Homo sapiens: one gene and its partner. The protein of the gene in region 2 interacts with the protein of the main gene of each other region in a biochemical or structural test. Each region holds a gene or a part of one and is shown on either strand. Other genes may lie near its edges.

Region 1 (9,034 bases), on a different chromosome or scaffold from region 2:
CACAGGACATGATTGTATTCTTTTTAATGTGTGCGTAGTATTTTATGGTGTATATGTGGCACATATTTCTATCCAATTTATTGATTCACACATAAGTTAAGTCCATGCCTTCCTTATTGTGAATAGCAATATGGCGAATATACAAGTGCATGTGGGGTTTCTTTTTGTGGAATTTTTAATTTTCTTTTGGATATATACTCAGTAATGGAATTGCTGGTTGAATGGTACTTCTGCTTTAAATTCTTTGAATAATCTCCAAACTGCTTTTCACAGTGGCTGAACTAATTTACATTCTCACCAACAGTGTATAAGCATTTCATTTTCTCTGAAGTCTAACCAGAATTTGTTATTTTTTTACTTTTTAATAGTAGCCATTCTGACTAATATTAGATGGCATCCCACATTGATTTGCATTTCTCTGATGATTAGTGATGTTGAACATTAAGAAAACAACCCCATTAAAACATTGACAAGGGACATAAGCAGACACTTCTCAAAGTACAGTACTGTACTACCCTGTAGTACAGTAATGTACTATAGAGTACATTTTAGGTACATTAGATGTACTACAGAGTACATTTTAAAGAGGAAAAGGAGGCACAGAGAGGTTAAATAATTGACCCAAGATCACACAGCTCATAAAATAGCATACCAGGATTTGAATCCAAACTATTCTCTTTACTATTATGCTATATTGTCCCTTATCAGCTATTATAACAATAAACATACAAAACTTTAATTAGGATTGTAATTCTGAAGATAATTCACTGAAAATTAATCAAGTTGTAAACAGTTTAAATTCTAAAATCAATCAATCTCAATGCATATTTAATATTGATAATTTGATACAAAACAAGGCTTGAGAGAACTTTAAAGTCCTAGCTCAGTAATACAAGGCAAGCATGAAATTTCCATTTCACTTACTTGCTTCCACAAAAGCTTTCAAAGCTTCTAGTTGTTCTGCTCCAGATAACTGAATGGCTTTTTCCAGGATCTGACGATACCTACAACAATACCAAATGAAAATAATGTTCTGAGGGTACTATATTTTCTAATGCAAACTTTGATGTGTATTTATTCATTTCTACATACCTTGGTTTCTTTCATAGTACTATAGTTTGTGGTTTTCTTTATAGTATACCACAGATTTTTTTTTAAGTTTCTAGTCTATCACAAGAGATATTAAATCTATAATTATATAAGGTACCACTTCATCTAGTTTTCAGTATAGTATACCAGAATTTTTTAAGTTTTCAAGCTCATCACAAGAAAGAATGAATCTATAATTCTGTTACTGAATCTAAGGTGTCACTTTTTCTTGAAGGTTTTATTTTTGAATTTAAACTACAAAGTCAATTTCCTTTCAAATGCCTTAAAAGATAAGCTATATTTCCTTCAACTGTGCAATACATAGACACACAAAAACATTATTTGAGGTGACCTGAATCTTTTCCTCTTACAGACGTAATGTATGTAGGGTCACCAGCAATAGGATAATGTTGACCAGGCAACGAAACCAAACATTAAAGACTGAATGTCTTAGTCTGTACAAAATAAACTTCGCCAAGCCAAATGCACTGATAGAATACCATTTATGCTGTCAGACAGTACCTATTTATTCTTTATTTGCATTCAGATCTAATAACTATTCTACCTAATATCTGTGACCACACAAGCTCCACGAGGACAGGAATTCTTGTGTTTTGTTCTCTGCTATGTAGACAATTATCTCAATTCTTGGCACATCATAAGCACTCAAATATTCAACGGTATTAGTAATGTTTTATTTCTTAACGAGTGGTTAGTATATGAGTGTTATACTATTCTTTTGTTGTTGTTGTTGTTGTTGTTTTTGAAGACGGAGTCTCGCTCTGTCACCCAGGCTGGAGTGCAGTGGCGCAATCTTGGCTCACTGCAACCTCCACCTCCCAGGTTCAAGCGATTCTCCTGCCTCAGCCTCCTGAGTAGCTGGGATTACAGGCATGCGCCACCACGCCTGGCTAATTTTTGTATTTTTAGTAAAGATGGGGTTTCACCATGTGGTCAGGCTGGTCTCAAACTCCCGACCTCATGATCCGCCCACCTCAGCCTCCCAAAGTGCTGGGATTACAGGCGTTAGCCACCGTGCCCGGCCTATACTAATCTTTATCTCTTTTGTCTTAATCATTTTTTTTTTTTTTTTTTTGAGATGGAGTCTTGCTCTGTCACCCAGGCTGGAGTGCACTGGCGCAATCTCGGCTCACTGCAACCTCCGCCTCCCAGGTTCAAGCAATTCTCCTGCCTCAGCCTCCAGAGTAGCGAGGACTACAGGCATGCACCACCAAGTGCGGCTAATTTTTGTATTTTTGGTAGAGATGGGGTTTCCGCATGTTGGCCAGGCTGGTCTTGAACTCCTGACCTCAGGTGATCCGCCCACCTCGGGCTCCCACAGTGCTGGGATTACAGGCGTGAGCCACCGCGCCCAGCCAATTGTAATATTTTTTAAAAGCACTAAATACATTTTACAAACCTCATAGCATTGCAATTATTCGGAAAGTCATCCAGAATAGAGTTACGAAATAAATATACAAAAATAGAACCTGAACTCATTCAGATTTATGACTTTTATTTTGTAGGGCACACCCTCAAGCTACCACTCAGCATTACTGACTCTCAACTCATACAAAATTCTCACAACCTTGGTTATCTGATTTCTCAAAACCACAATGAATCAAAGTGACTTTAAGAAAGCAGATATACGGATAGAAAAGATAGCAAATTCCAAAAGAAGAAATAAATTATTCTAAGAAAGCAAGGAAATATTAAGTTTTTAGAAAATTATATTTTCAATATTGCTAAGTTTGAGGGTCCTTAAAAGATAAATTACTTTATGGCCCTGGGCATGCTTTCAGATAAGTTATACATTCAATGGTTTGTTATTTTTTATTTTTTTCATATTTAATTAAATCAAGGGTTATTGCTAAGATCTCTTACTTTTATATCCTCTTAGATTATTTTATACTAACAACATTATATTCAAAGGTAATAGTGTCTCACTTATATAAATTTGCTAATTAACCTAAGTTGTTTTGTGGTTGTTATGGTTTTTTTTTTTTTTTTTTTTTTTTTTTTGAGACAGGGTCTCACTCTGTCGCCCAGGCTAGAGTGCAGTGACATGATCATAGCTCACTGTAACCTCCAATTCCTGGGCTCAAACAATCCTCCTGCTTCTGCCTCCTGAGTAGCTAGGACTACAGGCATGTGCCACGACCCCTGGTTAACTGTTCTTTTCTTTTTGTAGAGATGGGGTCTCACTACATTGCCCAAACTGGTCTCCAACTTCTGGACTCAAGCAATCCTCCCAACTCAGCCTCCCCAAGTGCTGGGATTACAGGCTTGAGCCACTGTGCCTGGCCTAACCTAAGTTTTAACACATAGTTTCATAATCAATCAACTAATCTGTATTGGGAATAGGAAGAAAAAATGAAAATAAACCAACCTAAAAAGTGATCAAAGTTTTATACTCATCAAATTATATAACTTATAGAGGCCTTAGAAATTGTGTACATAAACTCCCAATTTTATAAATGAATAAATTGAGGGCCAGTCGCAGTGGCTCATGCCTGTAATCCTACCACTTTGGGAGGCCAAAGAAAGTAGATCACTTGAGTCCAGGAGTTCAAGACCAGCCTGGGCAATGTGGTGAAACCTCATCTCTACAAAAAAAAAAAAAAAATACAAAAATTGGTTGGGCGTGGTGGCTCATGCCTGTAATCCCAGCACTTTGGGAGGCCAAGGCAGTCAGATGGCTTGATCTCAGGAGTTCGAGACCAGTCTGAGCAACATAGTAAAACCTCATCTCTACCAAAAATATAAAAAAATTAGCCAGGCATTGTGGCACACACCTGTGGTGCCAGCTACTTGGGAGGCTGAGGGGGGAGGATTGCCTGAGCCCAGGAGGTGGAGGTTGCAGTGAGCTGAGATCTTGCCACTGCAACTCCAACCTGGGCAACAGAGTGATATCTCATCTCAAAAATAAAAATTTTAAAAATAAAAAAAAATTACAAAAATTAGCCAGCTGTGGTGGCGTGTGCCTGGACAGAGCAAGACCTTGTCTCAAAAAAAAAAAAAAATTAATTAATTAAAAAAAGTGAGGTACAGCACTGTGGCTACATTACATGCTCCCTTGCTTCTCTAATATGTAAATTCTAGTATCTAACAACAGAGATTACTTTTTCAGAATAACATAAAATGACTAACAAACCTGTTTTAAACCAGGAACTTAAACAGAAATTTAATACTGCCATATAAAATCACCCCAAGGTGTTAATTGAGTCCTTAGGCATTTTAAGATGCTATATGAGATTCTGTGTATGATACTAAAAAGTTTTTAAATGACCTTTGTATTTGAAGATCATATGGCTGAGAAGACAAAGGGGAAGATTAAAAATAAAAAGTTAATATGTCAAGTGTTAAATTACAATATGGTCAGGTGCGGTGGCTCACGCCTGTAATCCCAGCACTTTGGGAGGCTGAGGTGGGCCAATCACTTGAGGTCAAGAGTTCGAGACCAGCCTGGCCAACATGGTGAAACCTCATCTCTACTAAAAATACAAAAATTAGCCAGGTGTGGTGGCACGTGCCTGTAATCTCAGCTACTCGGGAGGCTGAGGCACGAGAATCACTTGAACCTGGGAGGCAGAGGTTGCAGTGAGCTGAGATCCCGCTGCTGCACTTCAGCCTGGGTGACAGAGCGAAATTCTATCTCAAAAAAAAAAAAAAGTATTAAATTACAATAATACAAAAACAAAAGTTATGATAAAACTGAACAATATAAGCAATATGATAAATGAAGAGGTAATATATTAACTCAAAAGAGAGTAAGGCCAGGTGAAGTGGCTCACACCTGCAATCCCAGCACTTTGGGAGGCCAAGGAAGACGATCGCTTGAGGCCAGGAGTTCAAGACCAGCCTGGCCAACACGGAGAAACCCCATCTCTACTAAAAATACAAAAATTAGCCGAGTGTGATGGTGCACAACTGTAAGTCCCAGCTACACGGGAGGCTGAGGCAGGAAAATCACTTGAACCCAGGAGGTGGAGGCTGCAGTGAGCCACTGTACTCCAGCCTGTGACAGAGTGAGAGTAAAACAAAAATGGACTAGATTTGTCAAATAAGGCTTCGTAGATAATAATAGCTTTTTATATGAGTACTCAGTATACAAAGAGAAATGTGACTGATATGGAGAATGTGACAAGTGCCAAATATTTTCTTCCTTAAAAAAATTTGGCCGGGCGCAGTGGCTCACGCCTGTAATCTCAGCACTTTGGGAGGCTGAGGTGGGCGGATCACCTGAGGTCAGGAGTTCAAGACCAGCCTGCCCAACATGGTGAAACTCTGTCTCTACTAAAAACACAAAAATTAGCCGGGCGTGGTGGCGTGTGCCTGTAGTCCCAGCTACTCAGGAGGCTGAGCCAGAAGAATCGCTTGAACCCGGGAGGTGGAGATTGCAGTAAGCCAAGATCATGCCACTGCACTCCAGCCTGGGCGACAGAGTGAGATTCCATCTCAAAAAAAAAAAACAAAAAACAAAAAAAAAAAACTTATGGAGGAAAATAAGTTTTATTACTAAGGCATCATACATCTCTCCTATCCATTTATCATCAGTGAATTGAGCATCTTTAATGTATATGAACCAAATTCAGTATGTTGATTCTTAATTTCTTGGCACTTGAAAGGAATCTGGAGATAAATAAAGCATGAAAATGTACCACAGTCATCATTTAAGATCACAATGGGTGGTAAAGGTAGGTATTAACAGATCTTCCACTTACAGTAATGGTGAACTAAACGACTGGACCAACCCTCCCTCAAAAAAAAAAAAAAAAAAGCCAACATAAAAAGCTGAAAGAAATGAAAAAAAAAATGTAATTGCATAAAATCCTAACAAGAAAGGTAAAATGAGGAAAATAAGATAAACCATATATTCTGTCTAAAGGCATTTGCTGACTGTGGAAAGATGGCTGAGAGGTAGAGTGGCACTTCTTGTAGGGAGGAGAAGGTGGGCTCACTGCGAATCTGCTGGAAGCACTGAGAAGCAAGCTGCCATTTCTGGCAGACTAATAGAGCTGCACAAATGGGAATGGAAGTTCCATATTCTGCCAAAGGAGGAGACACACACTTTGGAAGTAAGGTTACAAATTCTATCCCAAGACCACCCAGGTAAACCAAAAAAATTCTGAAGCCTTGATTATACACTGTTAGCACCCTCAGGTAATGAAATTTCTCTCTAGAATCAACAAAAGCAACAGACAATCGCAACAACCAAAACGTCAAATACTGACTGGAGTTATCAGAAAGAGCATGATACAATTATGCTTACAATGTTCATGGGGATAAAGACAAGCTTTAAAGTTTCAGCAACAGACCAGGAGCCATAAAAAGTATCATTGGAAAAAAGAACCACCAGAAATTACAGAGCTAAAAAATACAACCCAACTTAGAAACTCAATGGAGTACTTAACGGCAGATTAAACACAGTTGAAGAAGTGATAAACTAGAAGGTAGGCCTGAAGAACTAATCCAGAATAAAGCATTGAAATGGAAAAGACAGAGTAAGAGGCCTAGAGGTTATAGTCAGTGGGCCTGACAGGGATTTCACCGGAGCCTAGAGGAGAAACAGAATGGGGCAGAGGCAACATTTAAAGAGATACAGGCCAAGCACAGTAGCCCACACCTGTAATCCCAACACTTTTGTAGGCCGAGGCAGGAGAATCCCTTGAGCCCAGGAGTTCGAGACCTGCCTGGGCAACATAGGGAGACCCCATCTGTACCAAAAAAAATGTTTTTAAATTAGCCAGGCATGGTGTCACGTGCCTATAGTCCCAGCTACTCAGGAGGCTAAGGCGAGAAGATTGCTTGAGCCAAGCATGTTAAGGCTGTAGTAAGCCATGATCTCTCTACTGCACTCAAGCCAGGGCAACAGAGCAAGACCCTGTCTCTAAAATAAAATAAAGAGATATAACTGAAGACATCTCAAGACTGATGAAATGATTTAATCCATTGATTCAGGAAACCCAGTGAAGCTTAACCAGGATAATGTGACAGAGTGCTTACAAAAAACGGCCACAATATAATTTCACTCCCAGTACCCATGTCCCTTTACAATACAACTTTGTAGCTCTTCATATCAAAAGGTAGAGTTTATTTCCCTACCCCTTGAATCTGGGGTTAACCAATAAAACGTGGTAGAAATGAAGTGCTAGTTCTGAGCCCAGACCTCGAGAGGCCTTGTATGTGTTTGTCTTTTGGAACCCTGCTGCTGTCACATGAACAGGCTCAGACTAACATACTGGCTAATGAGATATGTAGCCCAGTCAACTATATTGCCCCAGCCAACAAGCCAGCCAATCCACAGAAGCAGAGCTGCCTACCTGGCCTGGCTGGCAGCTAACTATAGACCCACATGGGAGCCCATGTGGAACCAAGACCACGTGGAGCAGAAAAGAACCATACAGCTGGGCCCAATCCAAACTACCAACCTACAGAATTATAAGCTAAATAAGTGACTGTTGTTTTAAGCCCTAAGTTTTGGGGTTTATTTCACAGCAAAGGGTAACTGACATAGAAAAGTAAAAACAAATCCACAGACATATCATAATGAAGCTACACAAAATTAAAGACAAAATCTTAAAAACAGGTAAGTGCTGGCCAGGCGCGGTGGCTCACGCCTGTAATCCCAGCACTTTGGGAGGCCAAGGCAGGTGGATCACAAGGTCAAAAGATCGAGACCATCCTGGCCAACATGGTGAAACCCTGTCTCTACTAAAAATACAAAAAAAAGTAGTCGGGTGTGGTGGCATGCACCTGTAGTCCCAGCTACTTGGGAGGCTGAGGCAGAAGAATCGGTTGAACCCGGGAGGCAGAGGTTGCAGTGAGCCGAGATCGCGCCACTGCACTCCAGCCTAGGCAACAAGAGTGAAACTCCATCTCAAAACAAAACAAAACAAACAAACAAACAAAAAAAACAGGTAAGTGCTAATATAATTTTTAGGAGAGAGAAATCATTGGATGGGGTTGATCTTTAAACATTCTAAGTATTTCAATTTAATAACAGTAGGAAGACAGGCATTCTAGGCAAAAATAATCACTATCTGAAGTGTAGTCAATTTTTTTTTGTGAAAATAAGGCCAAAAAGGTAGATGTGTTTGTTTAGAGTTAAGGGCTCATAGGCAAGCAGATATGGACTGTCTTCTAGCTTCACCACTAGCTGTGTGACCTCAGAGCAAGGTATTTCAACTCTGTACTTTGGTTTTCTCTTATTATAATGTAAATAATATCACTACTATCACCTACTCCTACTTGTTAAGGATTTTTAAATGTAAGTAATGTTGTGCTTCGCACAGTAAACTCTAGATGTTATTGACTTTCACTCTAGAGATGAAAACCACTAAAACTGTTGTGTTTGGGACAACAAAGAGAGAATCAGAATCTGAGTTAGAAGGGGCCTTTGAGGCTATCCTCAATAAAGTCTATCCTCCGTTGTGGCTCTCCTATTCTAAAGCTTTATGTGAGATAATAAATACAATGCATAATATGCACAAAAGCAGCCTATAAAATGGAGGAAATGCTTTTCCTCTGGCTAATTTCTTATATAAACTTTAGACAGCTGTGTTAATTCACAGTTATGGGAAAGCATTTCTAACTGAGTTTTTAACAAGAAAACGAGCATAGTCTGGTAGGTTTAAAATGAGCTTTTTAGAGTAGATGAACCTGGATTCAAATACAAGCACTGCCCCTTTCTAGCTATTCATTAATTCAACCACGTTTATTGAACAACTACTGTTACAGATATCCCAATTGCTAGGAACACACAGTATTGATGTTTTAGAAACAATGTATTCCATTATTCTTTAATATGGAATCCTTTGTTACTCAGCTCCTAAAAAAAACACCCAAAAACCTTCATTAAAAGTACATACAAGAAAAAATACATTAAAAAAAAACACACTGATATATTTCAAGGGTATTTCTCTTAAAGCATATAGCTGGTAGA
Region 2 (5,951 bases):
GGGCCACAGCTGGGAAGGGCAAATACCAGAAGGCAAGGTTGACCATTCCCTTCCTCAAGTGCCTATTAAGGCTCCATGTTCCTATGTTGTTCAAACCCTAACTCAATCCCAAATTAATCCACCATGTATAAGGTTGAGCTATGTCTCTTATTCCTGGACACCATACTCAGCCATATTCTGGTCCACACATTAAACAAGCTGGATGACCTTGAAGAAGCTTCACCCACTCTGTTCCTCAGCTTTCCCTTCAGTGGGATGATATCAACTGGACAACAGGATGTGCGATTCTTTTAGTTCCAGCCTTCCAGGATGTTTTCACTCCCCTGTTTGTTGTTGTAGGATGGTATTACCTCCACCTTCCCACCTTCCCTATGCCCTGGTTCTGTCTCCTGTGCCTCGCTCTGAAAGTGGATGAGACCTACAATTCCTGTCCTGGTAGTTCTCCTAATGAACACACTGAAGCACGAGGAAGCTGAGATTTTTGTTGCTACATGAGAGCATGGAGGCCTCTTAGGGAGAGAGGAGGTTCAGAGACTCCTAGGCTCCTGTGGAGCCCCACTCATGGCCTTGTTCATTTTCCCTGCCCCTCAGCAACACTCCTATTGACCTGGAGCACAGGTATCCTGGGGAAAGTGAGGGAAATATGGACATCACATGGAACAACATCCAGGAGACTCAGGCCTCTAGGAGTAACTGGGTAGTGTGCATCCTGGGGAAAGTGAGGGAAATATGGACATCACATGGAACAACATCCAGGAGACTCAGGCCTCTAGGAGTAACTGGGTAGTGTGCATCCTGGGGAAAGTGAGGGAAATATGGACATCACATGGAACAACATCCAGGAGACTCAGGCCTCTAGGAGTAACTGGGTAGTGTGCATCCTGGGGAAAGTGAGGGAAATATGGACATCACATGGAACAACATCCAGGAGACTCAGGCCTCTAGGAGTAACTGGGTAGTGTGCTTGGTTTAATCTTCTATTTACCTGCAGACCAGGAAGATGAGACCTCTCTGCCCTTCTGACCTCGGGATTTTAGTTTTGTGGGGACCAGGGGAGATAGAAAAATACCCGGGGTCTCTTCATTATTGCTGCTTCCTCTTCTATTAACCTGACCCTCCCCTCTGTTCTTCCCCAGAAAAGATAGATGTGGTACCCATTGAGCCTCATGCTCTGTTCTTGGGAATCCATGGAGGGAAGATGTGCCTGTCCTGTGTCAAGTCTGGTGATGAGACCAGACTCCAGCTGGAGGTAAAAACATGCTTTGGATCTCAAATCACCCCAAAACCCAGTGGCTTGAAACAACCAAAATTTTTTCTTATGATTCTGTGGGTTGACCAGGATTAGCTGGGTAGTTCTGTTCCATGTGGTGGAACATGCTGGGGTCACTTTGGAAGCTGCATTCAGCAGAGTGCCTGGCTTGCGCTGGGCATCCAAGGTGGTCCCTCATCCTCCAGGCTCTCTTTCCATGTGATCTCTCAGTGTTTAAGAGTTAGTTGGAGCTTCCTTACAGCATGGCGGCTGACTTCCAAAAGGGATTATTCCAAAAAGAGCCTCAACATGCAGGCGCTTATTATGACTTCTGCTTGCATCATCCTATTGGCCAAAGCCAGTCACGTGGCTAAGTCTAGCCCCCTGTGAGAGGAGACTGCATAAGAGTGTGAACACCAGGAGACACGGTCACTGGGGGCCACCACTGTAACCATCTACCACAGGACCTGAATCTCTGTGTGCTACTCCCTTGCTCAAGGGCCCCCCTACCCACGCAGACCTGCTGTCTTCTAGCAAAGCCCATCCTCAGGACCTTTCTCTTCCAATCCTTATTGACTCAAATTGATTAGTTGGTGCTCCACCCAGAGCCCTGTGCTCCTTTATCTCATGTAATGTTAATGGGTTTCCCAGCCCTGGGAAAACATGGCTTTGTCTCAGGGGCTTGCTGGATGCAAGCTTAACCTCAATGTGAGTGGCCATACTGTGGCACTGTCCCATCCCTCACCAGGGACACTGTTCTGGAGGGTGACTGCCTGTTCTGTGAGGAGTGGGGATGGCTAGGACATTGCATGGAACACACCACCACCCCATCTTCTCAGAGCTCAAACCCTGACAGAACACCAGCTCCACAGGCCTTGGCTTCTGCTGATGGTGCCGTGTATTTACCAGACTTAGTGGTCCAAGGCCAGAGTGGCCAGATTTCCCAAAGTCAAGGTGTGACAGTGGGACAGCCTCTTTGTGTCTTTGCTGTCCTAAGAAACCTGGGCCAGGCCAGGCGCAGTGGCTCACGCCTGTAATCCCAGCACTTTGAGAAGCCAAGGTGGGCAGATCACGAGGTCAGGAGTTTGAGACCAGCCTGGCCAACATGGTGAAACCCTGTCTCTATTAAAAATAGAAAACATTAGACAGGTGTGGTGGTGCATGCCTGTAATCCCAGCTACTCAGGAGGCTGAGGCAGGAGAATCGCTTGAACCCAGGAGGTGGAGGTTGCAGTGAGCCGAGATTGTGCCACTGCACTCCAGCCTAGGCGACAGAGCAAGACTCCGTCTCGGGAAAATTAATTAATAAATAAATAAACCTAGGTCCCAGAGTCCCACAGAATGGCAGACAGGAGCACCTGGGGGCTTTTAGGGTATGGCATTTCCCCTGTACTAACTCTGGGCTGTCCAGAGGGCCATTTCATGGCGTGGAGTGGAGAGGGAGGCAGCACAGGACTTCCTAGGCCTCAGCTCTCACCTGCCCATCTTTTGATTTCCAGGCAGTTAACATCACTGACCTGAGCGAGAACAGAAAGCAGGACAAGCGCTTCGCCTTCATCCGCTCAGACAGTGGCCCCACCACCAGTTTTGAGTCTGCCGCCTGCCCCGGTTGGTTCCTCTGCACAGCGATGGAAGCTGACCAGCCCGTCAGCCTCACCAATATGCCTGACGAAGGCGTCATGGTCACCAAATTCTACTTCCAGGAGGACGAGTAGTACTGCCCAGGCCTGCCTGTTCCCATTCTTGCATGGCAAGGACTGCAGGGACTGCCAGTCCCCCTGCCCCAGGGCTCCCGGCTATGGGGGCACTGAGGACCAGCCATTGAGGGGTGGACCCTCAGAAGGCGTCACAACAACCTGGTCACAGGACTCTGCCTCCTCTTCAACTGACCAGCCTCCATGCTGCCTCCAGAATGGTCTTTCTAATGTGTGAATCAGAGCACAGCAGCCCCTGCACAAAGCCCTTCCATGTCGCCTCTGCATTCAGGATCAAACCCCGACCACCTGCCCAACCTGCTCTCCTCTTGCCACTGCCTCTTCCTCCCTCATTCCACCTTCCCATGCCCTGGATCCATCAGGCCACTTGATGACCCCCAACCAAGTGGCTCCCACACCCTGTTTTACAAAAAAGAAAAGACCAGTCCATGAGGGAGGTTTTTAAGGGTTTGTGGAAAATGAAAATTAGGATTTCATGATTTTTTTTTTTCAGTCCCCGTGAAGGAGAGCCCTTCATTTGGAGATTATGTTCTTTCGGGGAGAGGCTGAGGACTTAAAATATTCCTGCATTTGTGAAATGATGGTGAAAGTAAGTGGTAGCTTTTCCCTTCTTTTTCTTCTTTTTTTGTGATGTCCCAACTTGTAAAAATTAAAAGTTATGGTACTATGTTAGCCCCATAATTTTTTTTTTCCTTTTAAAACACTTCCATAATCTGGACTCCTCTGTCCAGGCACTGCTGCCCAGCCTCCAAGCTCCATCTCCACTCCAGATTTTTTACAGCTGCCTGCAGTACTTTACCTCCTATCAGAAGTTTCTCAGCTCCCAAGGCTCTGAGCAAATGTGGCTCCTGGGGGTTCTTTCTTCCTCTGCTGAAGGAATAAATTGCTCCTTGACATTGTAGAGCTTCTGGCACTTGGAGACTTGTATGAAAGATGGCTGTGCCTCTGCCTGTCTCCCCCACCGGGCTGGGAGCTCTGCAGAGCAGGAAACATGACTCGTATATGTCTCAGGTCCCTGCAGGGCCAAGCACCTAGCCTCGCTCTTGGCAGGTACTCAGCGAATGAATGCTGTATATGTTGGGTGCAAAGTTCCCTACTTCCTGTGACTTCAGCTCTGTTTTACAATAAAATCTTGAAAATGCCTATATTGTTGACTATGTCCTTGGCCTTGACAGGCTTTGGGTATAGAGTGCTGAGGAAACTGAAAGACCAATGTGTCTTTCTTACCCCAGAGGCTGGCGCCTGGCCTCTTCTCTGAGAGTTCTTTTCTTCCTTCAGCCTCACTCTCCCTGGATAACATGAGAGCAAATCTCTCTGCAAAAAAGATATGGGGCAGCACTGTCCACAACAGCCTCTGCTGGAAACAACCCAAGCACCCATCACAGAATGAATTAGTACATCATGTATCTGCACACAACACAGTGCTCCTTGGCAAAGAAAATGAATGAATTACAGCCAGCTGCACCTCACAAGACAGATAATCTTACAAACATCATGTGGGTACAAGAATCACAAAAGCATGCATAGAGTGTGATTCCATTTCTACAAAGTTCAAAACGGGCAACATGGGGCTGTTGTGTGGAGGGCTGTGGAAACAGGTGGTGCAGAGAGAAGCAAGGCCATGCTCTGTCTGAAGGCCCAGTGACACTTGGCCCCTGCGAGAGAGAGTGGCAGGCAGGAGCACCTGGGGGATTTTAGGGTCCAGACAACATTCTATTTCTTGGCATGGATGCAGTTAGGCGGTTTTCTGTATGTATATTTTATTTCACAATACCTAGAAAATAAAAAGACTTGCCCCCCAACAACCAGGGTGTAAAGAAAGGAGCATCTGGGAAATTATGAGATTAGTGAATGGAGTATTGAATTTGTCCCCATAGGTGGGAGTGCAAGACCATGAGTGACCACTTATCAAACACACCTCAGTAAACAGTCAGGAGAGTGAGGAGTGTGGTCCTTTCACCTGCCCAGGTTGTTTCTGTTAGATTCTGGGCTTGGTCTCTGGAGTCCAAGAGGCAGGCCCCAGTGAGGTCATGCACTTGCTGTCTGATTTTGGCCAAGTCACCTCCCTTTGTGGGGACTGTTCCTCATTTGTTTGAGGGGAATGTTGATTTGGATGGGGATTTTCCAAACAGAGCTCCTTGGACCCTTCCCTCTAAGGTCTCTGGAAATGGGAAACCCTGCAGAGGGGAGGATAAATGGGCCAGGATTCATCCCTTGAACCCTGTTCCCAACAGAGCCCTCTGTTTTTCTCTTCTTTACAACTTGGACCTCCCATGGGACTTTGTTTGAAAGGGAGACTTCATTGCTAAAAGCAAACTAAACTAAATAGGCTAAAAGGCAACAAACTGGAGAAAATGTTTAAGGTCTTCTCTAGATCTAAGATCCTATGACGTTGAGGAGGTCATCCAACATCTCTGAGTTTTCTCTTTCTTGTATATAAAATGGAAGTAGCTGGCAGGGCAGGGCATGTGTCGTTGATATATTTTTAATCCTGGTAAAAGGAGGAGGTTCAAGGCAGAAAACTCATCAAAGCTTAATGACAACAATAGCAGCTAACATTTGTGAGGCTCTAAGGTAAAACCCAAGGCTAAGACTCTTCATGCAAACTAGGTCAAGCAGCAAGCTACAGGTTAGAAACAGGCAAGGCAGCAAAACAGTCACATGGGTGAACTCTGGGACTCTGCAGTCACACTCTGACTCTCCTGCTTGCACTGGGTGCTCATAAGCAAGCTAGTTAACACCTCAGAGCCTTGGTTTTCCCACCACTAAATGCAAATAATAGGCAATGCTGAGTTATTGCAAAGTTACTTAATCTTTGCAATAGCCTTCTGTGGTGAGTGGCATATTCTTATTATTATTATTAGTCCTAGAAGAGTCAGTGCTCAAAGGAATCTGCTTTAGAGCCTTATTGCTCCAAGTGTGGTTCATGCATCAGCAACATCAGCATACTTCTGGAGTTAAAATGCAGATTCTCAGATCTCAGGCTTG

The links. The genes of interacting proteins can lie anywhere in the genome.
Region 1: the proteins of IL1RN (region 2) and COPS4 form a complex in vitro, tested with the Homo sapiens proteins (one study listed by BioGRID).

The regions. Positions count from the first base shown.
Region 1 is NC_000004.12:83,037,596-83,046,629, reverse strand, and holds part of COPS4 (COP9 signalosome complex subunit 4), read right to left. Parts: intron 1,005-9,034; coding exon 925-1,004; intron 1-924. UniProt on the Homo sapiens protein: Component of the COP9 signalosome complex (CSN), a complex involved in various cellular and developmental processes.
Region 2 is NC_000002.12:113,129,909-113,135,859, forward strand, and holds the end of IL1RN (interleukin-1 receptor antagonist protein isoform 1 precursor), read left to right. Parts: intron 1-1,136; coding exon 1,137-1,249; intron 1,250-2,747; coding exon 2,748-2,963; 3' UTR 2,964-4,106; downstream 4,107-5,951. UniProt on the Homo sapiens protein: Anti-inflammatory antagonist of interleukin-1 family of proinflammatory cytokines such as interleukin-1beta/IL1B and interleukin-1alpha/IL1A.